Linked DNA regions of Homo sapiens. The protein of the gene in region 1 purifies or fractionates together with the protein of each later gene. This does not show direct contact. Each region holds a gene or a part of one and is shown in the gene's direction. Other genes may lie near its edges.

Region 1 (7,763 bases):
TAGAATGGTGGTTGCCAGAGGCTGCAGAGAGGGTAAAAGGGAATTGCTCCTGAACAGGGATAAAGTTTCAGTTTCAGTTATGCAAAATGAGTATGTTCCAGGTCTGCTATACAACATCACACCTGTAGTTAACAATACTGTATTGTTCAATTAAAATGTTGTTAAAAGGGTGGGTCTCATGTTAAATGTTTTATTACAATAAAAAATAATTTTTAGGAAGAAAGTTGTTAACTGGGTTTTTGTTTGTTTGTTTGTTGTTTTGCAGATATCCTTTAACAGACCTAAAGCTGTGTGATTTCTAGTAATCCACCTTTCAGAGCGTGACTTCCACCCGTCTAAATCCCTGGGAGTGAACTCATGGAGTTCTGGGGGGAAAAAAAATCCTGGGAGGTCGGGTTGGCCACAAAGCCCAAGATGTTCCCCAATTTACTAATTAGGTTAGAATTCCACACAACCAGCACCTCACCACCACCAAGAATTCTAATGGAAACTTTCTTCAGTGAAAACTAACTTCATTTATTTCAAGGCTGGTGCTAATTTTGGTTGTTGACTGCTTTGGCCTCCGATTATGGGAGGTATCCTGGGTGGGAACTGTCAGGGGAAGCTACTTGGAAGGCAGGACTGAGCCGGACCAAATTGCAAGATTCAAACCAGTGAGGAGGCCCAACAGCGGATTCTCCACAGACCCAGCAGAAGCTCTCGGGGGCTGGAAAAGGGCGCCACCTGGTGGCATCTGAGCAGAAGTCAGTGACACGTTTTCACCCACATGTCAGTACAGCTCCCGAAGCAGGTCCAGCGGAAAAGCTCCGGTATGAAGCTTTTCCCTTTACAGTGTGCTGTGAGGGTGTGTAACCACAGTTAATGGAAAGGGACCTCACTGGACTCAATCCAGTGACATCACACATGCCGTGTCTCCCACCCACAGAGAGAACTCCCAGGTCTTGAGTATGTGATGCCTGGAGCCTCATCTACCTTCTGAAGGCATCGTTCAGGCACGCTTTACATATGAGCAGTGTTTGGATTATTAATTGGAAAGGTCAGAACACCGTTTCAGCGGGTATATGAAAGTGATAGCAGCGGTGTCTGGAACATAAAGGAGAGTGTGTTTGTCCACTCTTCCTAGGGACACAGGGACGGGGACACTCCCCACTCTCCCCTGGGACACGGGAATGCTCTCCACTCTCCCCTGGGACACAGGGACGGGAACACTCTTCCCTGGGACACATGGGGACGCTCCCCACTCTCCCCCGGGACACAGGGGGACACTGTCCACTCTCCCCTGGGACACACGGGGACACTGTCCATTCTCTCCCGGGACACACGGGGACGCTCTCCACTCTTCCCTGGGACACACGGGGATACTCTCCCCTGGGACATATGGGCTGTCCACTCTCCCCCGGGACACACGGGGACGCTCTCTAGTCTTCCCTGGGACACACGAGGACTCTCTCCACTCTTCCCTGGGACACATGGGGACACTCTCCAGTCTCCCCTGGGACACATGGGGACGCTCTCCACTCTCCCCTGGGAGTTCCAGAGTGACCGTCATCGTGAAAAATGACAGGGATTGATGTAGTTTCCTGGCTTTTGACATTAACCCACAAACCCAACTACCACTCTGGGTTTTTCCTAGAGCGTAAGCCTTAGCTGACGCCATCCACACATTATGGTGCTGTGGATTTTCCTGTAATGAAAAGGAAAAGATTCAGACAGCAGGAAATAAGGGGCCAGGGGGAGGCTAAGGCTGTCATGATGGCAGAGAAGTCTCAACCCATGATCTTGGAAAAGCTGTCCACATTTAGGATCCCGTCTGCTTCTGGGGAAAACTTCCCTGGTTAGCTTCACCTTAAGGTCTCCGAAAGGTGTACGGTTCCAAGAATCTGGAGGGGTCTTTTTGAGTTTGGGGTTAGCCGATTTTTCTAAAATGTGCACAAGTTCTGGGTCCATAGTTCTTACACACATAATTAGCAAACGTCCCAGAAGGCGGCACGCAGACTCCTTGGATTCAGACAAACCCAAGCCAAAAGGGACCTACTCAAGGCCTCTAACTGGATACAATAGAGTTAAGTTTTGGATCCAATTCAATCCTGGACCCATTCCGGTCTAAGAATTGCTCAAGGCCGGGCGCCGTGGCTCATGCCTGTAATCCCAGCACTTTGGGAGGCCAAGGCAGGTGGATTGCCTGAGCTCAGGAGTTTGAGACCAGCCCAGGCAACACAGTGAAACCCCGTCTCCACTAAAATACAAAAAAATTAGCCGGGCGCGGTGGCATGTGCCTGTAATCCCAGCTACTTGGGAGGCTGAGACAGGATAATTGCTTGAATCTGGGAGGCGGAGGTTGCAGTGAGCTGAGATCACGCCACCGCACTCCAGCCTGGGCAACAGAGTGAGACTCCATCTCAAAAAAAAAAAGAATTGCTCAAAGTAGAGGGCTCAAAACACATGGTCATAGAGCACAAATCCAGCAGAGAGAACTCACCTATGACTCTAGATGCTTTGAGAGATCAGCAGGCACACAGGCCCTACTGAGCATTCAGTGCTCCTAGGGGGTGGCTGGAGGTCTACTTCAGATCCCACTTCTGACACCAAACTGTTAAAACAAAAACTTTGGACAAATTAAATTTAAGAGTTTGTGTGTGTGTGTGTGTGTGTGTGTGTGTGTGTGTGTGTGTGTGACAGAGTCTCCCTCTGTCATGCAGGCTGGAGTGCAGTGGTGCAATCTCAGTTCACTGCAACCTCCACCTCCCAGATTCCAGTGATTCTCCTGCCTCAGCCTCCCGAGTAGCTGAGATTACAGATGCCACAACACCTGGCTAACTTTTGTGTTTTTAGTGGAGACGAGGTTTCGCCATGTTGGCCAGGCTGGTCTCGAACCCCTGATCTCAAGTGATCCACCCATGTTGGCCTCCCAAAGTGCTGGGATTACAGGTATGAGCCACTGTGCCCAGCCAACAGAGTTTAATTGAGCAAAACACAACTCATGAATTGGGCAGCACTCAGAACCAATGGGGGAGGTTCGAGAGCTCCACTCTGTAATGTGGGCAGGAAGTTTTTATAGATAGAACACAGAAGTGAGATACAAAAAAAAAAAAATCACAATTAGCTTGATTTTGTTACTGCTTGAAATGTTTGCCTTATATGGCATGATCAGATCAGTTAGCAGCCTGTGACTGGCTGAGACCCAGCTATTTGTTCCAAAATATACTCATAGGTTAAGCTTTTAGCTTGTTTCTGTGGTACATTAGGTTGCAGTTTGTTGTTACCTAGAAACTCAAGGCACAGAGGCAGCCTGTTAATTGAGTTAATTTAACAGTTCAAACAAATACTTATGCACCAGTGTTTATAACAGCACTATTCACAGAGTTAGTTTGAAAGCAATCTAAATTCCTTCTTTGGATAGCCTAGACATTTCTCCTGGCCATAAGAAGGGGTGATGCCCTGACACATGCTACAATGTGGATGAACCTTGAAAACATGCTCAGTGAATGAAGCCAGACAGAAAAGGCATTAACCCAGAAACAAATATTGCATTTCCTTGATATGAAATATCCAGAACAGGCAAGTCCATTCACTGAGACAGAAAAGCGACCAGTGGTTGCCAGGGCATGGGAGGAGTGTGGAACGGGTCGTGACTGCTTAATGGATGGGAGTTTTATTTTGGGGTGGGGAAAGTGTTTGGGGACGAAACAGAGGCGGTGGTGGTTGCACAATGTTGTGAATGTCACTGAATTGTTTACTTTAAAATAGTTAATTACATGCTATGCTGATTTTATCATAATAAACTATTTTAAAATTATTTTGTGAAAAACTGTGATGCTTGGGATTTGCTTCAAAATAATGTGGGTGGGGTGGAGGTTCGAAAAGTTACCAAAAAAAAAAAAAAAGAAAGAAAGAAAGAAAGAAAACTCTGGCTTGCAAAGAAGAAAACGGATCGGCCGTGGATCCCTCTCCAGCTCGAGGGCTGGAGCTGCGGCGGAGGCAGGAGCTGGAAGCGAGGCGTCTGCTGGCAAAGGCGGGAGTGCAGGTTGCGCTCGAAGCCCCGGCAGCCGCGGCAGGAACCGGCCTGGACGGGGTGGGGGGCGCCGCGGAGGCCGGCGGGACTTCCCATGTCTTTCTCCTCGAGCTCGGAAAAAGTTCCCACCCGGGGAATCCCGACCCTCCAACTTCGAGACCGCCGGTTCCGCGCTCGGCCCCCACCTGGACCAAGAGCTGGGGCTGGGCTGCCGCGCCCCCGGCTCTGTCCCCGCGAGGCCCCGCTCCCAGCCCCACCTGGGACACCCGGGACTCCCGGGACACCTGCGGGGCGGGGCGGGGCCGGGGCGAGGCGGGGCGGGCTCGAGGCCGCACCCCGGAGGCGGAGCCGCGAGCTACCCGCCCGCCGCGCGCCCCCCGCTCTCGGTGCGCAGCGGGGCCGACCCTCAGCCCTGCAGCGCCTTCCTGGAGGTGGGGGCCGCCCGCGCCATGGCCGCCGCCCAGCCCAAGTACCCCGCCGGGGCGACCGCCCGGCGCCTGGCCCGGGGCTGCTGGTCCGCCCTCTGGGACTACGAGACGCCCAAGGTGATCGTGGTGAGGAACCGGCGCCTGGGGGTCCTGTACCGCGCCGTGCAGCTGCTCATCCTGCTCTACTTCGTGTGGTGCGCGGGGCGCGGGGTGCGGGGCGCGGGGTGCGGGGCGCAGGGGAGGGGCTGGGATTGGGGGCGCTGGGCTGGAGGCGCGGGGCTGGGGCTGGGGCTGGGACCGGGGGCGCGGGGCAGGGGCTGGGGCTGGGACCGGGGGCGCGGGGCAGGGGCTGGGATTGGGGGCGCGGGGCAGGGGCTGGGACTGGGGGCGTGGGGCAGGGGCTGGGACTCGGGGTGCTGGGCTGGAGGCGCGGGGCTGGGGCTGGGACCAGGGGCGCGGGGCAGGGGCTGGGGCTGGGACCGGGGGCGCGGGGCAGGGGCTGGGGCTGGGACCGAGGGCGCGGGGCAGGCCCCAAGAGCCCCGCAGAGCGGACCCGGGTCGCGGGAGGGCCCCTGCCGTGCCTGCGGGCGGGACTCAGCCTTCCCAGGGTCGCCTCCGGAGCCGGCGCCGCCCCTGCCCGCAGGTACGTATTCATCGTGCAGAAAAGCTACCAGGAGAGCGAGACGGGCCCCGAGAGCTCCATCATCACCAAGGTCAAGGGGATCACCACGTCCGAGCACAAAGTGTGGGACGTGGAGGAGTACGTGAAGCCCCCCGAGGTGCGGGCCGCCCCCTGCCCCCCGCCCCGCCGTGCACCCTACCCTAGTGGGCGGAGGGGGCAGCGGCTGCCGCCTGGCCGACCGCCCCCTCTTTCTGAGCCCAGGGGGGCAGCGTGTTCAGCATCATCACCAGGGTCGAGGCCACCCACTCCCAGACCCAGGGAACCTGCCCCGAGGTGAGGGGATCCCGCGGCGCTGGGGGACCCCGCCTCAGCTAGGCGGGCCAGCTGTCCCTTGCGGGGTCCCTGACTGGGCCGCCTCCACCCTAGAGCATAAGGGTCCACAACGCCACCTGCCTCTCCGACGCCGACTGCGTGGCTGGGGAGCTGGACATGCTGGGAAACGGTCGGTGTGCGCCAGCTGGGGCTGGGCGGGTGGGGCAGGGCTGCGTCCCCGCTAATGCCTCAGTGACCTCTGCCTCCCAGGCCTGAGGACTGGGCGCTGTGTGCCCTATTACCAGGGGCCCTCCAAGACCTGCGAGGTGTTCGGCTGGTGCCCGGTGGAAGATGGGGCCTCTGTCAGGTGCACCTGCGCCCCGGCCTGGGGCCCAGCCTCCCCTCTGATCCTTTTCCCCTGACCAGAGGCCAAACGGGCGGGGCAGGAGTGACAAGATCTGGGGAGGGGTGGGGGCCAATGCCAGGCGGGGGCTTTGCGGGAAGAGGGGACTAAACAACCCTTCTGTGCCTCCTCAGCCAATTTCTGGGTACGATGGCCCCAAATTTCACCATCCTCATCAAGAACAGCATCCACTACCCCAAATTCCACTTCTCCAAGTAAGAGCCGCGGGGTGTGGTGACGGCCCAGCCTGAGGGCTGCCTTCTGGGAATGGGGTATTTGGGGTGCAGGTCTCGCCTCCTGCCGCCTCCTCAGGGGCAACATCGCCGACCGCACAGACGGGTACCTGAAGCGCTGCACGTTCCACGAGGCCTCCGACCTCTACTGCCCCATCTTCAAGCTGGGCTTTATCGTGGAGAAGGCTGGGGAGAGCTTCACAGAGCTCGCACACAAGGCAGGGCAAGCGCAGGCAGGGTGGGGCCAGGGTGGGCTCCCACCTGCACAGAGAGGGCCTGGGGTACAGGGGACCAGTCCCTCCTCCCTCCTGACCAGCTGGCCCCGCTCAGGCAGAGGAAAAGAAATGCGATCAGCGCAACCCATCCGGTGTGGCGCTTGCTGAATTATTGACACTGGCCATGGGGCTGGCTGCTGGCACCCCTTGTGCCTCAGACACTGGACGCCCACCAGTACCCCTGAGCTGCCCCATGGGCCCCTCAGTGCACACCTCACATGCAGCCTGGGACTGACCCGGGCTCTCGAGGGGCCTCTCGTGTGCCCTTGTGACCCCCTTCCCTGGCCTGGGACTGACCCGGGCTCTCGAGGGGCCTCTCGTGTGCCCTCCTGACCCCCTTCTCTGGCTCCTTCTTGGCAGGGTGGTGTCATCGGGGTCATTATCAACTGGGACTGTGACCTGGACCTGCCTGCATCGGAGTGCAACCCCAAGTACTCCTTCCGGAGGCTTGACCCCAAGCACGTGCCTGCCTCGTCAGGCTACAACTTCAGGTGCTGTACTTGGGACACCGCTGTCCACACTGGCATAGCTGTGGTGGGGTCCCGAGAGGCCCAATGCCTGTGGGGCAGCCCTGGAGTGCAGAGGACGAGTGGGCACTGGCGTTCCCATTGCAGGTTTGCCAAATACTACAAGATCAATGGCACCACCACCCGCACGCTCATCAAGGCCTACGGGATCCGCATTGACGTCATTGTGCATGGACAGGTGCCTGCACCTGCTGGGGGTGGGTGGCCAGCCCTGCTAGCCTGGGTCTGAGCTCCTCACGCCCCACCCCTCCCTTAAGCCCCATCAGACGCCGTCAGACATTCTGACCACGACCCCCATTCTCCCCAGGCCGGGAAGTTCAGCCTGATTCCCACCATTATTAATCTGGCCACAGCTCTGACTTCCGTCGGGGTGGTAAGGAACCCTCTCTGGGGTCCCAGCGGGTGCGGGGGGTCCACCAGGCCCTTACACACCGGTCTCTGCTGGCCCCAGGGCTCCTTCCTGTGCGACTGGATCTTGCTAACATTCATGAACAAAAACAAGGTCTACAGCCATAAGAAATTTGACAAGGTGTGTACGCCGAGCCACCCCTCAGGTAGCTGGCCTGTGACCCTTGCCCGTGTATTGGGCCAGGCCCCTCCCGAACCCGGCCACCGCTCCGAGGACCAGCACCCCAGCCCTCCATCAGGCCAGGAGGGCCAACAAGGGGCAGAGTGTGGCCCAGCCTTCCCGCCCCTGCGGCCTTGCCCCATCTCTGCCCCTTCTGAGCAGATGGTGGACACTCCTGCCTCCGAGCCTGCCCAAGCCTCCACACCCACAGACCCCAAAGGTTTGGCTCAACTCTGAGCTCCTTTCCATCTCACTGGACTGCAGACCCGGCCTGGTGGGGCCAGAGAGTCCCCAGCTAGGGACCTGCACGTGGACGTGGGCACCTCAGTAGCGGAGCATCTCCACGAAACGGGGCACCACAGGATCCCTGTGCAAGGGCTGGG
Region 2 (7,582 bases), on another chromosome or scaffold:
TGGGCCCAGGAGGCAGAGGCTACAGTGAGCCGAGATTGCACTACTGCACTCCAGCCTGGGGGACAGAGCAAGACCCTGTCTCAAAAAAAATAAATAAATAAATAAATAAATTTAAAATTAAAAACATTTTCTCATTTAATCTGAAATTAATTATAAAATTAATTGAAAAGGGTCCTCTGGCATGTTAATTCATTGAGGTTTGGCTACAATTTTGAGTAGGGGAATAAGAAAAGTAAGCTAAAACAATCTTTTCATATGGAATCTTTTCAAGAGACCTATAATAGAACATGATTCTTTCATGTTCTGATACTTGTTGAATTAAGGAGTATTTATTGAGAATCTTCTTTGTGCAAGGCTCTGCTCTAGGTTCTAGGTATCAAGCAATTTTAGTTTTATTTCTTTTATGTTTTGGTCATCACCAAAGTCTCTTCTCTTGTGGAGTTTCTCTCCTTGTATAAAATGCTAGTGGAGGTTTGTTGTTTTGTGTTTAAAAAGGATGAACTGCATTTGAAACAGTTTCAGAGAGAAGGCATATTAAGAGATAATGTTTCTCAAAGTAGATATGGGGACACTAGTTGCGTTCAGATAAATTGGGGAAACACTGCATTCTATTTTTTTTGAGACAGAGTTTTGCTTTTGTCACCCAGGCTGGAGTACAGTGGCATGATCTTGGCTTGCTGCATTCGCCTCCTAGGTTCAAGTGATTCTCCTGCCTCAGCCTCCCAAGTAGCTGGGATTACAGGCGTGTGCCACCATGCCTGGCTTATTTTTGTATTTTTAGTAGATACGGGGTTTTACCATGTTGGTCAGGCTGGCGTTGAACTGCTGACCTCCCATGATCCACCCACCTTGGCCTCCCAAAGTGCTGGGATTACAGGCATGAGCCACCACGCCCGGCTGGAAACACTGCATTCTATATCTCAACCCTTTACACCTGGATATTCATAAAACATTCACTGTATTAAAGGAACAGAGTTCTACTATTTTTTAAAAATGGACTTTTATTTATTTATTTATTTATTTATTTATTTATTTATTTATTTTGAGACAAAGTCTTGCTCTGCAGGCTGGAGTGCAGTGGCGCGATCTTGGCTCACTGCAACCTCTGCCTTCCGGGTTTAAGAGATTCTCCTGCCTTAGCCTCCCAAGTAGCTGGGACTACGGGAATGCACCACCACTCCCGCCTAGTTTTTTTTTTTTTTTTTTTTTTTTTTTTTGTATTTTTAGTAGAGATGGGGTTTCACCGTGTTGGCCAGGCTGATCTTGAACTCCTGACCTCAAGCAATCTGCCCGCCTCCACTTCCCATAGTGCTGGGATTACAGGCATAAGCAGCCGCGCCCTGCCTAATATTACAGTGACTTTGATTAGGCCTGTGGAGGAATTCCCTGACAGTTAAACCAGAAACTGTGAAGCTTTTTTTTTTTTTTTTTTTTTTTGAAAAGACAGGATCTCACTCTGTCACCCAGGCTGGAGTGCAGTGGCACAACTGTGGCTCACTGCAACCTTGATGTCCTGGGCTCAAGCAGTCTTCCTGCCTCAGCCTCCTGAGTAGCCAAGTCATGGAGACTACAGGTGTGAGCCACTGAGCCACCACACCTGGCTAATTTTTTTTTTTTTTTTTTTTTTTGTAGTAGAGACAAGGTCTCGCTGTGTTGCCCAGGCTGGGCTCAAGCAGTCCTCCTGCCTTGGCCTCCCAAAGTGCTGGGATCACAGGCGTGAGCCATTGCGTCTGACCCGGGAAGCTCTTTTTATGGAAAAGCTTATCAGTCGCCTTTTTCTGGGGAGGGACTCCTGTAAAAACTCGCATGTAATTGAGGCCTGTCAAGGGCCACTGGGGTTCTAAAATCTATTGCTTTAATGGAAAATTATAAAAATTTTTTTCCTGGTTGCAGGTAAATTTTTCTTTTGAATATAATAAACTATTCTTAAGATTATGGTTTGTGGCCGGGCGTGGTGTCTCACGCCTGTAATCCCAGCACTTTGGGAGGCCGAGGTGGGCAGATCACGAGGTCAGGAGATCGAGACCATCCTGGCCAATATGGTGAAACCCCGTCTCAACTAAAAATACAAAAATTAGCTGGGCGTGGTGGCATTTGCCTGTAATCCCAGCTACTCGGGAGGCTGAGGCAGGAGAATCGCTTGAACCAGGGAGTTGGAGGTTGCAGTGAGCCAAGATCGTGCCACTGCACTCCAGCCTGACGACAGAGGGAAACTCCATCTCAAAAAAAAAAAAAAAATTATGGCTTGTGAGCAGGTGGTGTTTATGGTTAAGACACCTTGCTTTGACCTAGACTGATAAGAATTTGACTTCAACCTAGAGACAACCTAAGTTTGAGAAAAGAGATATTAGATTATAATAGGATAAAGTCAGCATTTTCTTAAGATCATAATATCGTTAACAGTAACATGATACTTTCTAGATTTAATTCGCTGACTAACTTCACTCTTTTGCAGGTATGATTTTTAATGAACGCGATCAAGAGTTGAGAGACTTGGGCTATCAGAAACATGCTTTTAATATGCTTATCAGTGACCGCTTGGGCTACCACAGAGATGTGCCAGACACAAGGAATGCAGCGTATGTGCCTTATCGGATTTGCAAATACATTTTAACAACACGATGCTTTTAGTGTCAGTGTAAGAGGTCACGAGGACGGGGTTCATATTTCCCAATGCAGCGTCTTTATTCAGCATACTAGGAAACTTGAGACAGATTTCCACTTGTATTATATGTGAAGCCACATGGTCTGAGATGTACCAACAGAGTCCTGGAGCTTGCTGTGTCTCCTTTAACATTTCAGATCACCTGGGGAAGCAGAGTAGGGTGCTAATTAAATAACCTGAGTATAAGTTTGTTCTAAATGTTTATTGATTGGATTCATGGCAAATAGGAATTAACATCAGTGAAGAATTTTACTCTCATTTCACTTTTCTCTTTCATTGTTTTTTTTCCATCAAAGGCTTTTCGTGCATGTGGTCAGTCATTCCACAGACAGACATTTGTTGAGCACCTTCTGTTTGCTACACGCCGTCTTGAGCCCTGGAAGAAACAAACAGATGTAGTAGTTCCTCAGTTCTCAGGGCTAGAGTCTAGCAGGGGAGGCAAATAAGTCAACAAGTCCTTACATGAGTAAGGGCTGTGACAGGGTTTGGGGAAATGGGGGCATAGTACTGGAGTGGTCCCTGCAGAGAGGTGACAAGGCTGGAGGGAGGCAGGGCTCAGATGCTGGAGGGCTGTGTGTGCCCTGGGAAAGAATTCAGGGTTCTCAATGTGTTCTCTAAGTTCATGGCTTTTTTTTGGGGGGGGGGGGATGGAGTCTTTCTCTGTTGCCCAGGCTGGAGTGTGGTGGCATGATGTCGGCTCACTATAACCTCCACCTCCCAAGTTCAAGTGATTCTCCTGCCTCGGCCTCCTGAGTAGCTAGGACTACAGGCGTGCACCACCACGCCTGGTTAATTTTTATAGTTTTAGTAGAGATAGGGTTTCACCATGTTGGCCAGGCTGGTCTCAAACTCCTGACCTCGTGATCTGCCCACCTTGGCCTCCCAAAGTGCAGGGATTACAGGCGTGAGCCACTGCGCCTGGCCAGTTCATGGCTTTTTGATGTTGCTTAAAGCTCCTAACCCTTTTTTTCCCAAATAGTTGCTTGGAATGATTTGATACATGGAAGCTCTTCTGTTATCTTGGTATATCATAATTTATTCAAATCTTTTTTATTATTGGGCAAAAAAATAAAATTTCAAATATAAAGTCTTATATTTGTTTCCTTTTGAAACCTCATTGAGGAGAAGCTGGACATCAGCTCATGAGTGCTGCATGAAACACTTGCAGTGATTTTGGTAAAAAGAACTCACATTTTTATGTACCCTCTCTTCCAAAAAAGAAAAAAAACCCTGAAGTTTAAAAAGTCTTTATTCGGCTGGACATGGTGGCTCACACCTGTAATCCCAGCACTTTGGGAGGGCGCGGTGGGTGGATCACGAGGTCAGGAGATCGAGACCATCCTGGCCAATGTGGTGAAACTCTGTCTCTACTAAAAATACAAAAATTACCTGGGCGTGGTGGCGCAGGCCTGTAATCCCAGCTACTCAGGAGGTTGAGGCAGGAGAATCGCTTGAACCAGGGAGTCGGAGGTTGCAGTGAGCCGAGATCGCGCCACAGCACTCCAGCCTAGTGACAGAGCAAGACACCGTCTCAAAAAAAGAAAAAATTTATCCAAAAGTAAACAAGATAGCAGGTATAGGAGGGAGACATTATTAGCAAAATGTAAAACTCTTGAAGAAGAAACCGTATTGTTTTTGTAAATGCTTTTAAAAAAAATTGTTGTTACCATAATGTTAGAAAGAGGCTGAACAGGCTGGACGTGGTGGTTCACGCCTGTAGTCCCAGCACTTTGGGAGGCTGGGGTGGGCAGATCACCTGAGGTCAGGAGTTCGAGACCAGCTTGACCAACATGGAGAAACCCTGTCTCTACTAAAAATGCAGAATTAGCCGGATGTGGTGTCGCATGCCTGTAATCCCAGCTCCTCGGGAGGCTGAGGCAGGAGAATCGCTTGAACCTGGGAGGCGGAGGTCACGATGAGCCGAGATAGCGCCACTGCACTCCAGCCTGGGCAACAAGAGCGAGACTCCGTCTCAAAAAAAAAAAAAAAGGCAGGGGGTGGGGGAAGAGGGTGAACAAGGGGACAGTAAATCTGTAGGTGAATAATAATCTAAACCATTCGAGCCTTTTAAAATGTCAGAATTTCCTCATCTTTATCTTTACAGATGTAAAGAAAAGTTCTACCCACCTGACCTGCCAGCTGCTAGTGTTGTTATCTGTTTCTATAATGAAGCGTTTTCTGCCTTGCTTCGGACAGTGCACAGTGTCATAGACCGCACGCCAGCACACCTGCTTCATGAGATCATCCTTGTGGATGATGATAGTGACTTTGGTAAGGAATGCTGCACCTGGTAACATTGGATCCAGGCTGTCAGTCACTACAGCACTGACAAACACTAACACAGCTGAACTTTCAAGTACGTGGTAGGTGGGGATCCTACACGTGCAGTCACAGCTGGGCTGACCACAAATAAGTCTGAAGAAATCCATTATCTTTGTAACCTGCTTATAAACTATGCTACCCAAATTTGGGCCGTGAAATTTTTTCCGTGGCTTACTTTAAAAAACACACCTCTTTTTATTTGAAATAACTGTAGGTTCACAGGAAGTTACAAAGACGGCCTATGTACCTTTATCCAGTTGCTCCATCATAAAATTCCCCTGTCAGAACCAGGAATCCACATTGGTACAGTGTGTGTGGTCCAGGGTCATTCTGTCACACAGGTGGACTCCCACAACCCTCACTGCAATGATACAGAACTGTTTCCTCACCCGGAGGGCCCTTGTGCTGCCTCTTTCTAGTCACACCTCCTGCTTTCCTCTACTCTTCCCCAGTCCCTGAAACCACGACTCTATGATTTTGTTTCCATCTCTGATTTTGTTATTTCAAGAATGTCATATAAATGGAATCACACGGTATGTGACCTTTTGAGATGGGCTTTTTTCATTTGGCATGATGCCTTGGCTTATGCTTCTCTATTAAGTCTCTTACACTGATCGTCCCCAGATAAAAGTGGATTGCATTCTGATAGCTCCTCAATGATCTCTGAATGCCAGTATTTTATGATTCACTACATATTCTATATTCTGTACGCCTTTCTTAATTCAACATAGACTCTTGCTAAGAATGGCTTTGTGTACCCAAACAGGATAGAAGGCTTTTTATTACACTGCTCATTCAGCTCTCAGTGACCTTGCAAGAAAGGCTGGAAGCCCATTTTATAGAGGGAGAAATATAAAAAGTAATTTGCTCAGACCCCATAGCTGTTAAGTAGTAGAGTGGAAATGAGACCTCTGGTCTGCATAGCTCCAAGCCTTCTGCTCTTTTCATGACAGCAGGCTGCAGGAACACAGTGGTACAGGTGTATGCCAGTGACTTTTTCATGCACTCGAGCGTTTATTAAGTACCACTTGTATCAACATCAGAGTTGGTATACCAGTATACTTAAATATAGAAGGTAAAGAAATGGAGAGAGTCATGGGAGCAAAATTCTCAAACCTTGGCCAAAAACAAACAAACAAAAAACCTAATAAATAAATCTGAGTCTGGACCACGTAGAAGATTGGTTACATACTGATTTCTAGAATTTATGGTTGGTTTTTGTTTTTTTTTAAGTCAACTTGTATTTTGGTTTTCACTTTGTGGCTATTTTACCTAAAAGGAAAAATTCATAATTTGAGGTGGTTTGTATATTAACTATGGAAAGAATTACTGCTTATTATCTTACACGATCTTTCAAGTTATTCTGAAATATACAGGTGAATGACATAGAATTCCTTAAAAAATATTTAGCAACCTTGGAAGAAAGATGCTAAATTAATAAAAGGACATATTCAATGCTGTTCTTGTTATTCTTGGTAGGGGCAATAGAAGTTGTTTCTTAACTATTTTGAAATGGACTAAGACTTAATAAATTCCTTTGTAATAAAAGGCATTTATATCTCATTTTCTTTGTTATCAATGTGATTTATATATGGTCAGCTGAACATTTATGCACTCAAAATACTCATTTCAAACATTCTTTGTGCAAAGCATTGTGCTCGATGCTATGGAGATACAAATAAGTCTGTAACTAAAGTAAGTATTCCTCTTTGCTAGTATTCCAGCTCTTACCCTTCATTTCTTTTTCTTCCTACAGGATAAGCTACAATACTCTTTTAAAGTAAAATATTCTGTAGTATTTGCTTGATAGTTTGTTGTAAATTTTAGCAAGTACTAGATACAACTTTAGAATAGCTGTAAAGTGTCTTTATATATGTCTCATACAGTTTGAATAATTGTGGGACTTTATTTTCAGATGATTTGAAAGGAGAACTAGATGAATATGTCCAAAAATACCTCCCTGGAAAAATTAAAGTCATAAGAAATACAAAGCGTGAGGGGTTGATTCGAGGGAGAATGATTGGCGCGGCCCACGCGACAGGTATCACTTCTCGTTAGCTTTGCTCTACAGGTGTTGGATGACAAGGGCTCGAGCCTCAGCGCCTGTCCTGATTCTGCAAAGTCTATGAAGAGTAGTGTTTCAAACGGACATTGCCAGCAGGAGAGATGAGGCTTGTTCTGTTTGGGAAAGACCTGTTCATAACGCCAAGCCTGCCATCCCAAAGCACATAGTGCAGGGGGCTGAACTCTCAAATCCTCAGTGTCTATTTTCATAGCAACCCTTCTTTGATACTTACTGCCCCTCAAATATATTTTATATCTTATTCACTTATATAAGCAGAAAAGCCCAGACCAAAATGTAACTGAATTTTTATGTTTTTAAATACAAAATTTAAAATGTATGAACCCAAACTGTCGATTGGAACTATGCTTTTAACTCTTAGTGCGGAGTGCATCCCTCTGGAGCCACACATCATGACTTTAATTGGTTAATGGACGTAAGATTGACTTACAAAACTATAAATGGCATTTTCTTTAAAATTCCCTCTTAATCCTTCTGATTCCATCAAGGAGCAAGTCTCCGTTGTTACTAGT
Region 3 (7,577 bases), on another chromosome or scaffold:
CAGGGGTAGAAAGTTTATCCAAAGGGTCCGGGCATGGTGGCTCAAGCCTGTATTCCCAGCACTTTGGGAGGCTGAGGCGGGTGGATCAGGTCAGGAGTTCAAGACCAGCCTGGCAAACATGGCAAAACCCTGTCTCAACTAAAAATACAAAAATTAGCCAGGCGTGGTGGCGGGTGCCTGTAGTCCCAGTTACTCAGGAGGCTGAGGCAGGAGAATCACTTGAACCTGGGAGGTGGAGGTTGCAGTGAGCCGAGATTGCACCATTGCACTCCAGCCTGGGTGACAGAGCGAGACTTTGTCTCAAAAAAAAAAAAAAAAAAAAAGAGAGAAAGTTTATCCAAAGGGATAATAACAGAGAACTTTCCAAAACTAGGGAAACATACTATTATCCAAGTACAAGAAGATTATATAACATCAAGCAGATTTAACCCAAAGAAGATTACCTCAAGGCACTTAAAATCAACTCTATGTTTAAGAGACATAGCTTAAAGTAATAAAAGCCATCTATGACAAACTCATAGCCAACATTATACTGAACAGGGAAAAGTTGAAAGCATTCCCCCCGAGAACTGGAATGAAACAAGGATGCCCACTTTCACCACTTCTGTTCAACATAGTACTGGAAGTCCTAGTCAGAGCAATCAGACAAGAGAAAGAAATAAAGGGCATCCAAACTGGTAAAGAGGAAGTCAAACTGTTGCTTTTGCTGATGATATGATCATATACCTAGAAAACCCTAAAGACCCATCCAAAAAGCTCCTGGAACTGGTAAATGAATTCAGTAAAGTTTCAGGATACAAAATTAATGTCCACAAATCAGTAGCTCTGCTATACACCAACAGCGACCAAGCTGAGAATCAAATCAAGAAATCAACCTCTTTTACAATACCTATAAAAATTAAATAAATAAATAAAATAAGGTACTTAAGAATACACCTAACCAAGGAGGTGAAGGACCTCTACAAGGAAAACTACGAAACACTGCTGAAAGAAATTATAGATGACACAAACAAATGGAAACACATCCCATGCTCATGGATAGAATCAATATTGTGAAAATGATCATACTGCCAAAAGCAATCTACAAACTCAATGCAATTCCCATCAAAATACTACCATCGTTTTTCACAGAACTAGGAAAAACAATCCTAAAATTCATAGGGAACCAAAGAAGAGCCCATATAGCCAAAGCAAGACTAAGCACAAACAAGAAATCTAGAGGCATCACATTACCCAACTTCAAACTATATACAAAGCCATAGTCATCAAAACAGCGTAGTGCTGGTATAAAAATAGGCACATAGACCAACAGAACAGAATAGAAACCCAGAAATAAAGCCAAATACTTGTAGCCAACTGATCTTCAGCAAAGCAAACAAAAACATAAAGTGGGGAAAGGACACCCTTTTCAACAAATGATGCTGGGATAATTGGTGACCCACATGTAGAAGAATTAAACTGGATCCTCATCTCTCACCTTATACAAAAATCAACTCAAGATGCATCGAAGACTTAAATCTAAGACCTGAAACCATAAAAATTGTACAAGATAACACCGGAAAAAACCTAGACATTGGCTTAGGCAAAGATTTCATGACCAAGAACCCAAAAGCAAATGCAACAGAAACAAAGATAGACAGGACTTAATTAAACTAAAAAGCTTCTGCACAGCAAAAGAAAAAATCAGCAGAGTTAACAGACAACCCACAGACTGGGAGAAAATCTTCACAATCTATACATCTGACAAAGGACTAATATCCAGAATCTACAAAGAACTCAAACAAATCAGCAAGAAAAAAAAAAACAACCCCATCAAAAAGTGGGCTTAGGACATGAATAGACAACTCTCAAAAGAAGATATGCAAATGGCCAACAAACATATGGAAAAAATGCTCAACACAGCTAATTATCAGGAAAATGTAAATCAAAACTACACTGCAAATCTACCTTACTCCTGCAAGAATGGCCATAATCAAAACATCAAAAAATAATAGACGTTGGCATGGATGTGGTGAAAAGAGAACACTTTTACACTGTTAGTGGAAATGTAAACTAGTACAACCATTATGGAAAACAGTGTGGATATTCCTTAAAGAACTAAAAGTAGATCTACCATTTGATCCAGCAATCTGACTACTAGGAAGAGGAATAACCACAGAAAAATAAGTCATTATACAAAAAAGATCCTTGCACATGCATATTTATAGGAGCATAATTCGTAATTGCAAAAATATAGAACCAGCCTAAATGCCCATCAATCAACAAGAGGATAAAGAAAATGGTGTATATACACATACATACACACACACACACACACACACACACAATGGAATAGTACTCAGCCATAAAAAGGAGCAAATACTGGTATTCACAGCAATCTGGATGGAACTGGAGACTATTATTCTAAGTGATGTAACTCAGGAATGGAAAACCAAATGTTGTATGTTCTCACTGATAAGTGGAAGCTAAGCTATGAGGACACAAAGGCATAAGAATGACACATAGGACTTCAGGGACTCGGGAAAGGGTGGGAGGGGGTGAGGGATTAAAGACATCGGGTACAGGATACACTGCTTGGGTTATGGGTGCACCAAAATCTCAGAAACCACCACTAAAGAACTTATGCATGTAACCAAACACCACCTGCTTCCTAAAAACCTATTGAAATAAAAAATACATTTTTATTTTTAAAAAATGTCCATACTACCCATACTACCCAAAACAATCTACAGATTGAATCCAATCCCCATCAAAATACCAATGACATTCTTCACAGAAGCAGAATAAACAATTCTAAAATTTATGTGGAACCACAAAAGACCGAGAATAATAGCAAAAGCTAACCTGAGCAAAAAGAACAAAACTGGAGGAATCACATTACATGACTTCAAATTCTACTACAGAGCTATAGTAACCAAAACAGCATGGTACTGGTATAAAAACAGACACACAGACAAATGGAACAGAATACAGTACCCAGAAATAAATCCACACACTTAGGGCATGGCTACACGGAGGAAGGGGTTTCTGAGCACAATACTCTGTGTGTGTTAACTTTGTAGTTTTGAAGTTAACAAGACCCTGGGCTCGCTATGCAGTCCGTATGTGATGTTGAACCCTTTACACACAGCACTAGACGGTTTTGAACCTATCAAAACACTGCTTCACTTAAATTTCACCAACTCCTTAAAATCCTAGTAAGTCTATGTTTTCCTTTGTTCCTATGTTCTCCTTTTCTCCCACTTTGTGGGTTGTCTGTTTACTCTGCTGATTATTTTTTTTGCTGTGCAGAAGCTTTTTAGTTTAATTAAGTTCAGTCTATTTATCTTTGTTTCTGTTGCATTTGCTTTTGGGTTCTTCATCGCGAAGTCTTTGCCTAAGCCAATGTCTAGAAGGTATTTTTCCGGTGTTATCTTGAGCAATTTTTATGACTTCGGGTCTTAGATTTAAGTCTTTGATGCATCTTGAGTTGATTTTTGTATAAGGTGAGAGATGAGGATCCAGTTTAATTCTTCTACATGTGGGTCACCAATTATCCCAGCACCATTTGTTGAAAAGGGTGTCCTTTCCCCACTTTATGTTTTTGTTTGCTTTGCTGAAGATCAGTTGGCTAATCAGATACCTCATAGCTCCTTTGTTGTATAATTTTGTGCATTGTAGATCAGGGTCAAAATGATAAAGGTGATTTTCTGGGACTACAGACTTGTCAATAACAGGTGGTCCTAGGCTGATAGAGGTAAACAAATAAAAGCTTTAAAAGAATATTCTCTGTTAAAATTTGCTTTCATAAATTTCATGTTTAAAATCATTTGTGAATAAATGTTAAAATAAAAAGGTGAGCCACGATTTTGGTAAGGCAATTTCTGAGCAAATCACACACAATTTTTTTTCATTCCCATTGATCTATTACATAGACGAATATTTGGTTGTGAAAAAGTGAGAGAAAGAACTCGGCTATTTTATTATAGTAGAGCAACACCGAAGGGAGACGACTTCGCTGTAGCTCAGAGTCTTTTTCCATTCTTCACCCACGCGCGGGGCAGTCGCGCGGCGCGGTCGCGCGGCGGGTAGGAACTACCATCCCAGCATCCTCTGCGGCGCGGGGAAGGAAGCCCGGGAATGAGAGAAAGAGGCTCCGGGGAGATAGCGGACCAGTGAGGGCTGCCCCTCTTTTGAAGCGGTTTTCGTCTCTTTCCGCCAGTGGCCTCCCAGCTCACGCAGGGGCGGGTCCCGGTAGCGCGAGGCGGTGCAGGGCGGGAAGGGGAGTGGTGGCGGCTGCGGCAGTAGGGACAGCAGGAGCAGTGGTGCTGTCAGCGCGGCCGTCGGAGACATGGGAGACCCGGGGTCGGAAGTGAGTAGTCGAGTGAGGGTCCTGGCGTTCTCAGAGGCGAACCGCGAAGGGTTTGTGTTTTCTGCGGTCTGAGGCCTGGTGCTCCGTCGCAGCCTCGGGGCGATACCTCTTCAGTGTCTTGGGCCGAGCCCAGCTCTGGGGCCTGGTGCGTGTCTGAGCGAGGAACCCGCAGCAACAATGGCCGCCCGGCCCCCCGCACGGGCCCTGGCGTTCGTTGTGGCCGCGGCTGGGCCAGTGGGAGCGACGTTTTAAGGCAGGATTGCCCTTCGGTGTTGAGCTTGCGTTCCTCCTGGAGTAGATAAGGGGAATTGTGAGAGGCTGGTAACTAACGCGTTTTCAGCGTTGGGTCCCTGCAGCTCCGCACACTCTGTGGCAAGAGCCAGAGCTCGAGTTCCGTTCCTAGTCGGGTTTCCGTGAAATTGTGCTCAGTTCGTTTTCCTCAAGAGCTCTCTGTCTTTAATTGTTCCTTTCGGAAACGCTCTCTTCCTACACGAATGTGGCTGAACAGATAAGCATGTTTTGGCTTGTTTTTATAGATAATAGAATCTGTCCCTCCAGCTGGCCCTGAGGCATCTGAGTCAACAACGGATGAAAATGAAGACGACATTCAGTTTGTCAGTGTAAGTAGCAATGATGATTGGGGTTTTCCCAGAGTAAAAGACTATGGTGGGCCATTATGTAATGTTACCTCACCTGGTCATTTAATGTTCATGAGTGTCTAATACATACTAGACACTGGAGCATGGCGCAGGATTGGGAAATTTACCAAAAGAGCTATCTGAGCCACCCCCGTAGCCATCACAAAGAGCACGTCCTAAAGAACGTGCTGTACACTTAATCTCGCCCCCTGCCTTTCATTTAAACTTAAGATAAAAACGCTGGTGTCTAAAACGCTGTTTTGAAATGGAGCAAGAGTAACTTCTAAAGGCGACACGGAGGAAGGAGCTGCTAATGATGAGCAAGGACGTAGAAAACAGGAAGGGTTGTGAGAGCCCAGAATCTTAGCGTTATGGTGCTTCTAACATGAAGGCAAATAGCTTGAAGATTTCTCTAACCTCTGAGATCATCATGTTACGGCATAGTACAGTTGATGCTCATAATGAAGAATCCTACATCACTGGGAACATGCTCTATTTTTCTGAGTTTGTTCCCTTTGAGACAGTAGTTTTCAAGCCTTAGTAAGTATAAACAGGCAGATTCCTGGGCCCCACTGCAGACCTACCGAATCAGAATTTCCAGGCGGGGGCCTAGGAATCTTCATTTTCAGACAAGTGCAGGGACATAAGGATTTCTGAGCACACTTTGGACAGAATGGGTTTCTAAAGCAGAAGGGAGTGTTTTATGATATATTTTGGGGTGATTTTCATCCATAATTGTTGGAGTTTTAGAAAGGCTTTGCGTAAAGTGGTATCTCAGCTCGCCAGGCAGAAAACAGTTCTGTCCCCAACTCGTCTTTTGGAATGCCGTAGTTAGTTGCAGTTTGGTATTCAGGCTGTAGAATTTTTCTTTAATGGAGTGTCTGTCTAATGTTTCTGTGTTTTTTAGTTTTTGTAGGTTTAGGGCGACTTTGTAAGTCACTTGTTTTTTAAATTAAAATTTCCTCCCTAAACATTGTTTTGTTAACATCGTTGTTTGTTTTTCGTGTTTTGTGTATAAGTTCTTTACCCTGTCACTTTCTGGACATATTTCCCAATTAATAGTGTGTGTATATTTTGTTCCTGACATTTGGAACCTTTCTAAATATTGATGATACCAAGGGAGATTGTATGCTGACTCTGCCTTCACTGTTGTTATGGAGTAAGCAACGTAACTTGAAATCAAAGAGCAATGGTTTCTGTTTTTGTAACGAGAAACATTTGGGAAGAGGAGTTCATGGGTCTTTAGGAAAAATAATTTTGGTTTCCTCTTAACTGGTATAAAAACAGGAATGATTGGGACAGATGATCTTGATGAGTTTTTTGTGCATCTGTATGTAGAAGTGACACACGTCTGATTGATGATCCATGTGCCATTGAGAAAGTATGTAGAAGTGACATACGTCTGATTCATGATCCATGTGCCGTTGAGAAACACAGATGGGATGTACAAAATTAAGTTTGGAAAAGTAAATAGGTATAGATTTGTGTAATATCCTGAGGAATAAATCATTATATTTTAAATTGTGAGTTAATATATAGGCTGTGTTTAGCTGAGGTTTAAAACTCTTACTTTAAATTTTATTTTAAATATAAAGATCCTTCTACATCTTTTCATACAATATTTTGTATATCCAGCGTGATAGAACCCTTTATATTTAACCCTGTTCAAAATAGAAGATCAAAGGTTTGACAGCTCTTATATGGAGAAGTGAATTACATGCTGTCAGTGTAATTGCAGTACCAGAAAGAATGTAGTAAAACATCCCTGTTGCATTTCAGTGGTGCCACATAAAAGACAATGATAACTTAATTCCACTTTGAAATACACTCAGAGACAACTTTCCTTTGTAACCCCATCCTATACTGGGCTCTACCAGGATATGCTTATTTCTCTGTGTTTTTTATAGTACCATCCAGTAAAGATGCAATGCTGCTGGGTATAGTTCTCTGCTTGTGGGTTCTTCAGATTAAAAGAAAAAAAAGTTTGTTACTTCTTGATATATTCTGGTTTGGATTCCTTAGTCTTTTCATATAAATGTTGATTATCTAGCCTTCATTCTGCGTTGTGGCACAGAATCCTCTTTGTGTTCTGTCATGTACCTAGCCTCCAAAATAAACAATATGCTGAAAGAAAGGAATGATAAAAGATTTGGGGATACAAAAAGAGTCCTTATCTTAATGTAAATTTTATTGAAATATAGTACCTATACAGGGAAGGTTACTTCCTCCTTGCCATCACTATTTTTGTACCACATTACCATTTGTCTAGATTGATTATCTTGTTTGTATTCTTCCCACATGCTCTCTTATGTGGTTAACCTTCTTGAAACAGCTCTAATAATGTTCCCATCTTGATGTTATTTATTGATTCCTTTGCCTACAGAATAAAATCTAGGATTTTGACTAGGGCATTTATGGCCTGGTCTATGATGAGGGTAGTGTATATGTAAAGAAAGGATCAAGAAGACTCAGAGTTTGATGTTTGGCTGTACAGTGATGTGGAGGATAAAGCAGGGTTATCAAAGAACTTCGAGATTACTGATAATCATTTCAGTTAAAAAAAATTGTACTATGAAATCTGTTATCTT
Region 4 (7,582 bases), on another chromosome or scaffold:
GTTCTGCAGGATGTACAAGCATGGCACCAACAAGGGCCTCAGGAAGCTTACACTCGTGGCAGAAGGTGACGCAGGAACAGGCATATCACATGGTGGGAGCAAGAAAGTGGGCAGTAGGGGTGGGGGTATGGTTCCCAGACTTTCAAACAACCAGATCTTACGTGAACTGAGCGAGAGCTCAGTTATCACCAAGGGGATGGCACTAAACCATTCATGACAGATCTGCTCCCATGAGCCAATCACCTCCCACCAGGCCCTACCTCCAGCATTGGGAATCACATTTCAACATGAGATTTGGAGGGAACAAACATCCAAACCATATTATTCTGCCCCTGGCTCACCAAATCTCATGTCTTTCTTATATTTCAAAATATATTCATCCCTTCACAGTAGTCCCAAAGTCTTATTCCAGCATTAACTCAAAAGTCCCAAGTCCAAAATCTCATCTGGAGATGAGTTCCTTCTACCTATGAGCCTGTGAGATAAAAAACAAGTTATTTATTCCCAGTAACAATGGTGGTATAGGCATTGGATAAACATTTCCCTTCCAAAAGGGAGAAATTGGCCAAAAGAAAGGCGCAGTAGGCCCCACACAAGTCTAAAACCCAGCAGGGCAGTCATTAAATCTTAAAGCTCCAACATAATCCTTGACTTCATCTCCTGCATCCTGGTGCAAGGGGTGGGCTCCCAAGGCCTTGAGCAGCCCTGCCCCCATGGCTTTGCAGGGTACAGCCCACATGGCTGCTCTCATGGGTTGGAATTGAGTGTACCTGTAGTTTTTCCAGGCAAAGCGTGCAAGCCGATGGTGAGCCAACCATTCTGGGGTCTGGAGGGCATAATCACCTTCCCACAGCTCCACTAGGCAGTTCCCTGTTTGAGTCTTTGTGTGGGGTGAGGGCTGCAGTGCAACCCAGTTCTGAAATCTAGGTGGAATCTGCAATCTAGGTGGAATGCAAGCTCCTTCATGCTTGCATTCTGAGCATCTGCAGACTTAACACCACCTGGAAACCACCAATGTTTACAGTTTATGCTCCCCCAGAGTGGTGGCCCAAGCTATACCTGGACTCCTTTGAGCTGAGGCTGGAACTGGAGTGGCCGGGATGTGGGGAGCAATGTCCCAAGGCTTCTCAGGGCAGCAGGACCCTGGGCCTGCCCCCTTAAATCATTCTTCCCCCCAAGGCTTCTGGGCCTGTGATGGGAGGGGCAGCCTGGAAGATCTCTGAAATGCCTTTGAGGCCTTTTTCCCATTGTCTTGGATATTAGCAGTTGGCTCCCTTTTAGTCATGCTAACCTCCTTAATAAGTGATTGCTCCACAGTGTTATTAAATTCCTTCCCTATTCCCTGCCCTATTCCCTGGAAAATAGGCTTTCCAGTGGGAGTGGTTGCTCATGCCTGTAATTCCAGCACTTTGGAAGACCAAAGTGGGAGGATCACTTGAGCCCAGAAATTTGAGACTAGCCTGGGCAACCTCATCTCTACAAAACATAAAGTTAGCCAGGTGTGGTGGCATATGCCCATAGTCCCAGCTACTTGGGAGGCTAAGGTAGGAAGAACACATGAGTCCAGGAGGTTAAGGCTGCAGTGAGCCAAGATCCAGCCTGGGTAACAGAGCAAGACCCTGTCTTTAAAACAAAAAACAACAAAAAGAGGGGGCTTTCCTTCTCTACCACATGGCCAGGCTGTGAATTTTCCAAATGTTTATGCTCTGCCTCCCTTTAAAATGTAAGTTCCAACTTTAAGTCATTCCTTTGCTCTTGCATTTGATTGTAGCCTCTTAGACACAGCCAGGCCACATCTTAAATGCTTTGCTGCTTAGAAATTTATTCTGCCAGATGTCCTAAGTCATCACTTTTGTGTGTGTGTGTGTGTTTTTTGTTTTTTTTTTTTTTTTTTTTTTTTTTTTTGAGGCAGTCTCACTCTGTCAGCCAGGCTGGAGTGCAGTGGCACGATCTCGGTTCACTGCAACCTCCGCCTCCCGGGCTCAGGCAATTCTCCTGCCTCAGCCTCCTGAGTAGCTGGGATTACAGGCGTGTGCCACCATGCCCAGCTAATTTTTGTATTTTTAGTAAAGATGGGGTTTCGCTATGTTGGCCAGGCTGGTCTCGAACTCCAGACCTCAGGTAATCCGCCTGTCTCGGCCTCCCAAAGTGCTGGGATTACAGGTGTGAGCCACCGCACCCGACCAGTCATCACTCTAAGTTCAAACTTCCATAGATCTCTAGAACTTGGACACCACATAGCCAAGTTCTTTGCTAAGGCATAACACAGGTGACCTTTACTCCAGTTCTCAGTAACTTCTTCATTTCCCTCTGAGACCTCATCAGCCTGGACTTCTGTCCATATTTCTGTCAGCATTTTTATCACAATCATTAAACCAGTCTCGACTTAAGAAATTTCAAAGTTTCCCTCTTCTTCCTGTCTTCTTCTGAGCCCTTCAAATTCTTCCAACCGCTGCCCATTACCCAGTTCCAAAGCCACTTTCCCATTTTCAGGTATCTTTATAGCAACACCCAACTCCTTAGTACCAATTTTCTCTATTAGGCCATTCTTACATTACTGTGAAGGAATACCTGAGATGGTAATTTATAATGAAAAAAGGTTTACTTGGCTCATGGTTCTGCAGGCTGTGCAAGCATGGCACCAACATCTGTTTGGCTTATGATGCAGGCCTCAGGAAGCTTACAATCATGGCAGAAAGTGAAGTGCGAGCAGGCACATCATATGGCAAGAGTGGGAGAAAGAGAGTGAAGGGGGAGGACCCAGTCGTTTATTATTATTATTATTATTATTTTTGAGACAAAGTTTTGCTCTTGTCGCCCAGGCTGGAGTGCAATGGTGTGATCTCGGCTCACCGCAAACCTCCACCTCCCAGGTTCAAGCAATTCTCCTGCCTCAGCCTCCTGAGTAGCTGGGAATATAGGCATGCACCACCATGCCCAGCTGATTTTGTATTTTTAGTAGAGATGGGGTTTCTCCATGTTGGTCGGGCTGGTCTTGAACTCCCAACCTGAGGTGACCCGCCCACCTTGGCCTCCCAAAGTGCTGGGATTACAGGTGTGAGCCACCGCACCAGGCCCCCAGTCTTTTAAATAACTAGATCTCTAATGAACTAACTGAGCCAAGAACTCAGTCATCACCAAGGGGATGGTGCTAAACCATTCACAAGGGACCTGCTCCCATGATCCAGTTACCTCCCACCAAGCCCAGCCTCCAACACTGGGAATCACATTTCAGAATGAGAGTTAGAGGGAACAAATATCCAAACCATATCACTATGTAGTCTGCAAAACCTAAAATATTTATCCTCTGGCCTTTTATATAAAAAGTTTGCCAATCCCTGCCTTAGAACAATAAAGACTTGCTCTATTGGGCATTTTTGAGAAGTTAATTGTATTTCTTTAGTATGTTTCATAGATTCACAGAACTGGGAGGGTTCTTAGAAACCAATTAATCACTGTTCCCCTCCCCCTCTTTGTTTTTTTTAATAGTTTGAGAAAACAAAATTGAGAAAGGTGAAGCCACCAGCTCAAGATCATACTGCTACTTAAATGCAGAGCTAGAATTTGGATTAAGGAATATTTGTGCTAAAAAGAACCCAAAAGTATAGTTTATTTTGGATCAAATCTCTGTTAATAGCATTAGCTGACAATGTAAATTAAAATAAAAATAAAAGATTCTTAGCAGAGCCATTATCTATTTTCTGTTCCTCAGAAATTTCAGAAAACACTTAGCTCACAAAAACCCGAAACTCACACAATAAGCAGTAAACACAAATTGTTTACACTTTGCTAGAGAGCTCTTAACAGAATTTAGAGTAGTTTAAAAAAGTTAAAACACACACTAAATCATATGGGAGGGGTGTATGTTTCTTATATCCATATACATTTTTAAAGTGCCCTTAAACTAAATTGCTCATGTTAAGAGTCCTCTGGTAAACTCTGAATTAGCACTCATAGTTGAGCAGAAACTGGAGATGGAAGCAAATGAAATTGGAAACAGGTGTGCCTCCCACAGGATGGTAATAAAGAGGCATTGAGGCTTTGGATATACATGTGTTTATCTATTTTCTCTGTAATATATGGTGTCAAAGGCACCAGAAACACTCAGCAGATTTCACAACCAGGTTTTAATTCCTTTTCTTTGGTTTCAGGAATGTGGGAAGCAGGTGGGCTATGGATCAAGCCAAGTATAACCTAATTAATGAATATTTTCTGGTGGGAGTTACTGAAGAACTTGAAGATTTTATCATGTTATTGGAGGCAGCATTGCCCCGGTTTTTCAGGGGTGCTACTGAACTCTATCGCACAGGTATATAAAGGAAGGGTTTCTTTTTAAAGCTTTCTTTGGTTTGGTTTTTTGGTTTGCAACTTGTAAATATGTGATTTGAAGTTTCTTCAGTGAAACACAACAGATAGCTCCAGAAAGGCAGGTATCTTGTCGGTTTCTGCTCACTATTTTCAATTGAGTAACTGTGAATTAGGTGAAAATTAGAAGGCACTGTAGAAATAGTGGAATGATACAAAGTACAGAACCAGCCATAGAAATGTATGGTATTCAATAATGCCAGATATCAAACATTAGGCCTGTGTATAAGTCCTGCCTACTACCATTTTGAAGTAGAGGTGTGATAGGGGAACTGAAGTATGCCTAAGCCATGTTTTAGCAGCCTCAGCCGTATTATCATGTGTCTGAAAGTGATAAGCTAATTGTGTTTTTGTTTTGTTTCGTTTTTTGCTATTGCTTGATAAGATGCAGTCATAGGAACTCTTCTCCTTGAGGATGCATATGCCCTAGCTTCTAACACATAATTTTAGAGAATACAGATTATGAGAAAATAGAATACAGTTTGACAATAGGTATTTTATCAAAAATAAACTAGTCTCAGAGCACCAAGCACTTGAGAATATAGTGTGTGAGGTGACAGCCTACACTTTACTGTGTGCCAATCCTTACATTGACTATTTGACATTTCATTAAGTCTTTACTAGGTTAAGGATTAACATTCTAAAGGACTGAATCATGGCTCTAGTTTGATCAAGGCTCCGTTTTTACCTGAATTATATAAGACAATTATGTTACCTGTTCTTAATGTGTCATATTAACCACCTCTTCAAATAAAGAGGCATTGATCTTTTGTGTGTTCTCCAAGAATTATTTACCTTTCCTTTTTTTCCCCCTTTGTAAGTAGGAAAGAAATCTCATCTTAGGAAAACCACAGAGAAGAAACTCCCCACTAAACAAACCATTGCAAAACTACAGCAATCTGATATTTGGAAAATGGAGAATGAGTTCTATGAATTTGCACTAGAGCAGTTCCAATTCATCAGAGCCCATGCCGTTCGAGAAAAAGATGGAGACCTCTACATCCTCGCACAAAACTTTTTCTATGAAAAGATTTACCCTAAGTCGAACTGAGTATAAGGTGTGACTATTGGATTCTTGAACTAAAATTTGACCCTGTCTTCACCTTTGTTCTCAGCTCCACAGTCTGGATTGCTGACAGTAGGTGTATATGACAATTTGTATTGAGCCAAATTAGGAAACAGACAGTAACGTCAAGGAAGTAGATACTGGCTGGCATTGTCAGTGTTCTAAGTTTCAGGCATTTTTATTTTTCCTGGCTAAACGTTGGTGAAAGTTATAACCTCCTGCCTGGGAGAAAATATACATCACCTAAAATGAACTTATGGCAGGTCTAATCAAAAGGCTAAATACAATTTCAGAAAAGGTTCTGATACTCTTGTTTTTGATAAAGCATTTTTTCAACTAACCATGAATTAAGATGAGTCCATTTGCCTCTTCTGCCTTCACTGAGGGTTTGGGTTATACACCTCTACTGAATTGTGTTAATAACTGTTTGGCAGTGTGTACTTTGTTTTTGTGAGTCATGTCTCATGAAATTTATTGGAATGTTTAATCATATTTGCTAAGAAATGTTTCTGCTGTAGTTGGATTTGCCCATATTTATGTAGGTGGTTTTAATTTTTTAAATGGTGATTAGTGTTAAAAATCAATTTAAATCATGACTAATATGGTAAAAAGATAAAGCATCAAAGCAGTATTTCTCATTCCTGCCTCCTCAATATCTAATACTGGGAAGATACTTCAAAGAATATTGAGATTGTCTGAAGTTTTAGTTAAGATTTTCACACATTAATATCAAAAAAGTAAGTTTAGTATTTGTTTCTCCATGGGTTATTTGTAAAGCTGTAAACTGAGATATCGGTGACTCCGTATTATGACTCCATTAGTGAGCTGTGGTATGGGTAGGATTTTCCTACTTCTTCTGTACTTTTACCTGTAGACTATTTTTACTAAGGTGCTTTATAATGTGTTTTAAAGCATTGCATTTACAAAACAAGGAAAATGCTGTAAATATTGCATATTTTATGTATTTGGACCAAAAGGTTACAAGTAATTAGACAAAAGTGGTTTTGCACCAATTTTATGTCAAGTAAAACCATCAGACCTACTGTTCTTGTATTTCTCATTTAACTTTACTGTTAAGACATCACTGAAATGAACTTCAGTAAGCTTTCAATTTTGATACACAGTTCATTATTCATAACTTGAGGCAGTAATTACAGTGGAATGAGTACTGGACAAGGAGTCAAAAAACTTGATTTCAGGTCCTAGCTCTAGCACTTACAGCTGTGTGATCTTGGGCAAGTCACTTAACCTCTCTTTGCCTCAATTTCCTCATCTTGAAATGAGGATAATAATACCTGCTGTACCTACCTCACAGGGCTGTTGTGAGGATTAAATGAGATGGCATGTGAAAGCACTTTGAAAATTGTAAAGCGCTATGTAAATGTAAGGTATTATAGAAACATCTTTAACATATAGTTTCATACCATTCATTTTTTAACAAAGAAAGGGAAAAGTCTGCTTGTAAGCTGGTTGAAAAAGTTAATCTTGATATAAATTTGTGTTTGATAAATATCCTCTCAGTGTTTTATCTTCCATGTTTCAACAACTATTGAAATATGAAATGCCTGTGAACTCTTAAAGCTTCATGAGCAGCTGCTTGAGTTCAGGAAGTTCACTGTTAGAAATAGGCTTTGTTAGCTGACTAGGGTCAGGGAAACTTTTCTCTTCAAATTTGAAAGCTGTTTCTGTTTTCATTTTACATTATTATTCAGAAATGGTAGCTATTCTATACCTATGGTTTAAGTAAATATTTCTGAATAAGGCTTCACCATACTGTAAGCATTTTAGGTAGATTGCCTTAAAGGTTATGGGAGGGCATGAGGGAACACTTCTTATGAGAAAACATTTATAAACAAAAGAAACATTTATAAACTAAAGAAAAACTAAAAGAATGACAGAACAATCATCTTAGCACCCTTTCCTCACAATAATATAAAAATATTAAAAGAACATAGGCAGGCTTTTTTTAAATTTGGCTTTTTTCTTTCCTTTTTTCAAATTGACTTTTATAGGTATTTCCTGAAAGTGTATACAAATTATTTCCTCGCCCAAAATAAAGCACCACTTCAAGGTGTGGTTTGACATTACATGCTAATGAACAAACCCAGTATGCAAGTTATTCTTGCACCACATGCTCAAATCTTCTTGAGG

What was found.
Region 2: the proteins of P2RX2 (region 1) and GALNT11 purify together in Homo sapiens (affinity purification with mass spectrometry; 2 studies listed by BioGRID and IntAct, with this or other methods). This does not show direct contact.
Region 3: the proteins of P2RX2 (region 1) and KIAA1586 purify together in Homo sapiens (affinity purification with mass spectrometry; 2 studies listed by BioGRID and IntAct, with this or other methods). This does not show direct contact.
Region 4: the proteins of P2RX2 (region 1) and HS2ST1 purify together in Homo sapiens (affinity purification with mass spectrometry; 2 studies listed by BioGRID and IntAct, with this or other methods). This does not show direct contact.

Annotation. Positions count from the first base shown.
Region 1 is NC_000012.12:132,614,356-132,622,118, forward strand, and holds the start of P2RX2 (P2X purinoceptor 2), read left to right. Parts: upstream 1-4,420; 5' UTR 4,421-4,461; coding exon 4,462-4,634; intron 4,635-5,083; coding exon 5,084-5,219; intron 5,220-5,323; coding exon 5,324-5,395; intron 5,396-5,488; coding exon 5,489-5,564; intron 5,565-5,644; coding exon 5,645-5,741; intron 5,742-5,911; coding exon 5,912-5,992; intron 5,993-6,089; coding exon 6,090-6,228; coding exon of another isoform or gene 6,229-6,233; intron 6,234-6,645; coding exon 6,646-6,776; coding exon of another isoform or gene 6,777-6,899; coding exon 6,900-6,990; coding exon of another isoform or gene 6,991-7,009; intron 7,010-7,119; coding exon 7,120-7,185; coding exon of another isoform or gene 7,186-7,263; coding exon 7,264-7,617; 3' UTR 7,618-7,644; coding exon of another isoform or gene 7,645-7,763. UniProt on the Homo sapiens protein: ATP-gated nonselective transmembrane cation channel permeable to potassium, sodium and calcium.
Region 2 is NC_000007.14:152,098,343-152,105,924, forward strand, and holds part of GALNT11 (polypeptide N-acetylgalactosaminyltransferase 11), read left to right. Parts: intron 1-2,455; coding exon 2,456-2,579; intron 2,580-2,852; exon of another isoform or gene 2,853-3,041; intron 3,042-4,769; coding exon 4,770-4,936; coding exon of another isoform or gene 4,937-4,959; exon of another isoform or gene 4,960-6,550; intron 6,551-6,902; coding exon 6,903-7,028; coding exon of another isoform or gene 7,029-7,045; exon of another isoform or gene 7,046-7,582. UniProt on the Homo sapiens protein: Polypeptide N-acetylgalactosaminyltransferase that catalyzes the initiation of protein O-linked glycosylation and is involved in left/right asymmetry by mediating O-glycosylation of NOTCH1.
Region 3 is NC_000006.12:57,042,426-57,050,002, forward strand, and holds the start of KIAA1586 (E3 SUMO-protein ligase KIAA1586), read left to right. Parts: upstream 1-4,267; 5' UTR 4,268-4,330; coding exon 4,331-4,351; exon of another isoform or gene 4,352-4,496; intron 4,497-4,887; coding exon 4,888-4,971; intron 4,972-7,577.
Region 4 is NC_000001.11:87,099,281-87,106,862, forward strand, and holds part of HS2ST1 (heparan sulfate 2-O-sulfotransferase 1), read left to right. Parts: intron 1-4,151; coding exon 4,152-4,309; intron 4,310-5,189; coding exon 5,190-5,416; 3' UTR 5,417-7,582. UniProt on the Homo sapiens protein: Catalyzes the transfer of a sulfo group from 3'-phospho-5'-adenylyl sulfate (PAPS) to the 2-OH position of iduronic acid (IdoA) or glucuronic acid (GlcA) within the heparan sulfate (HS) chain and participates in HS biosynthesis.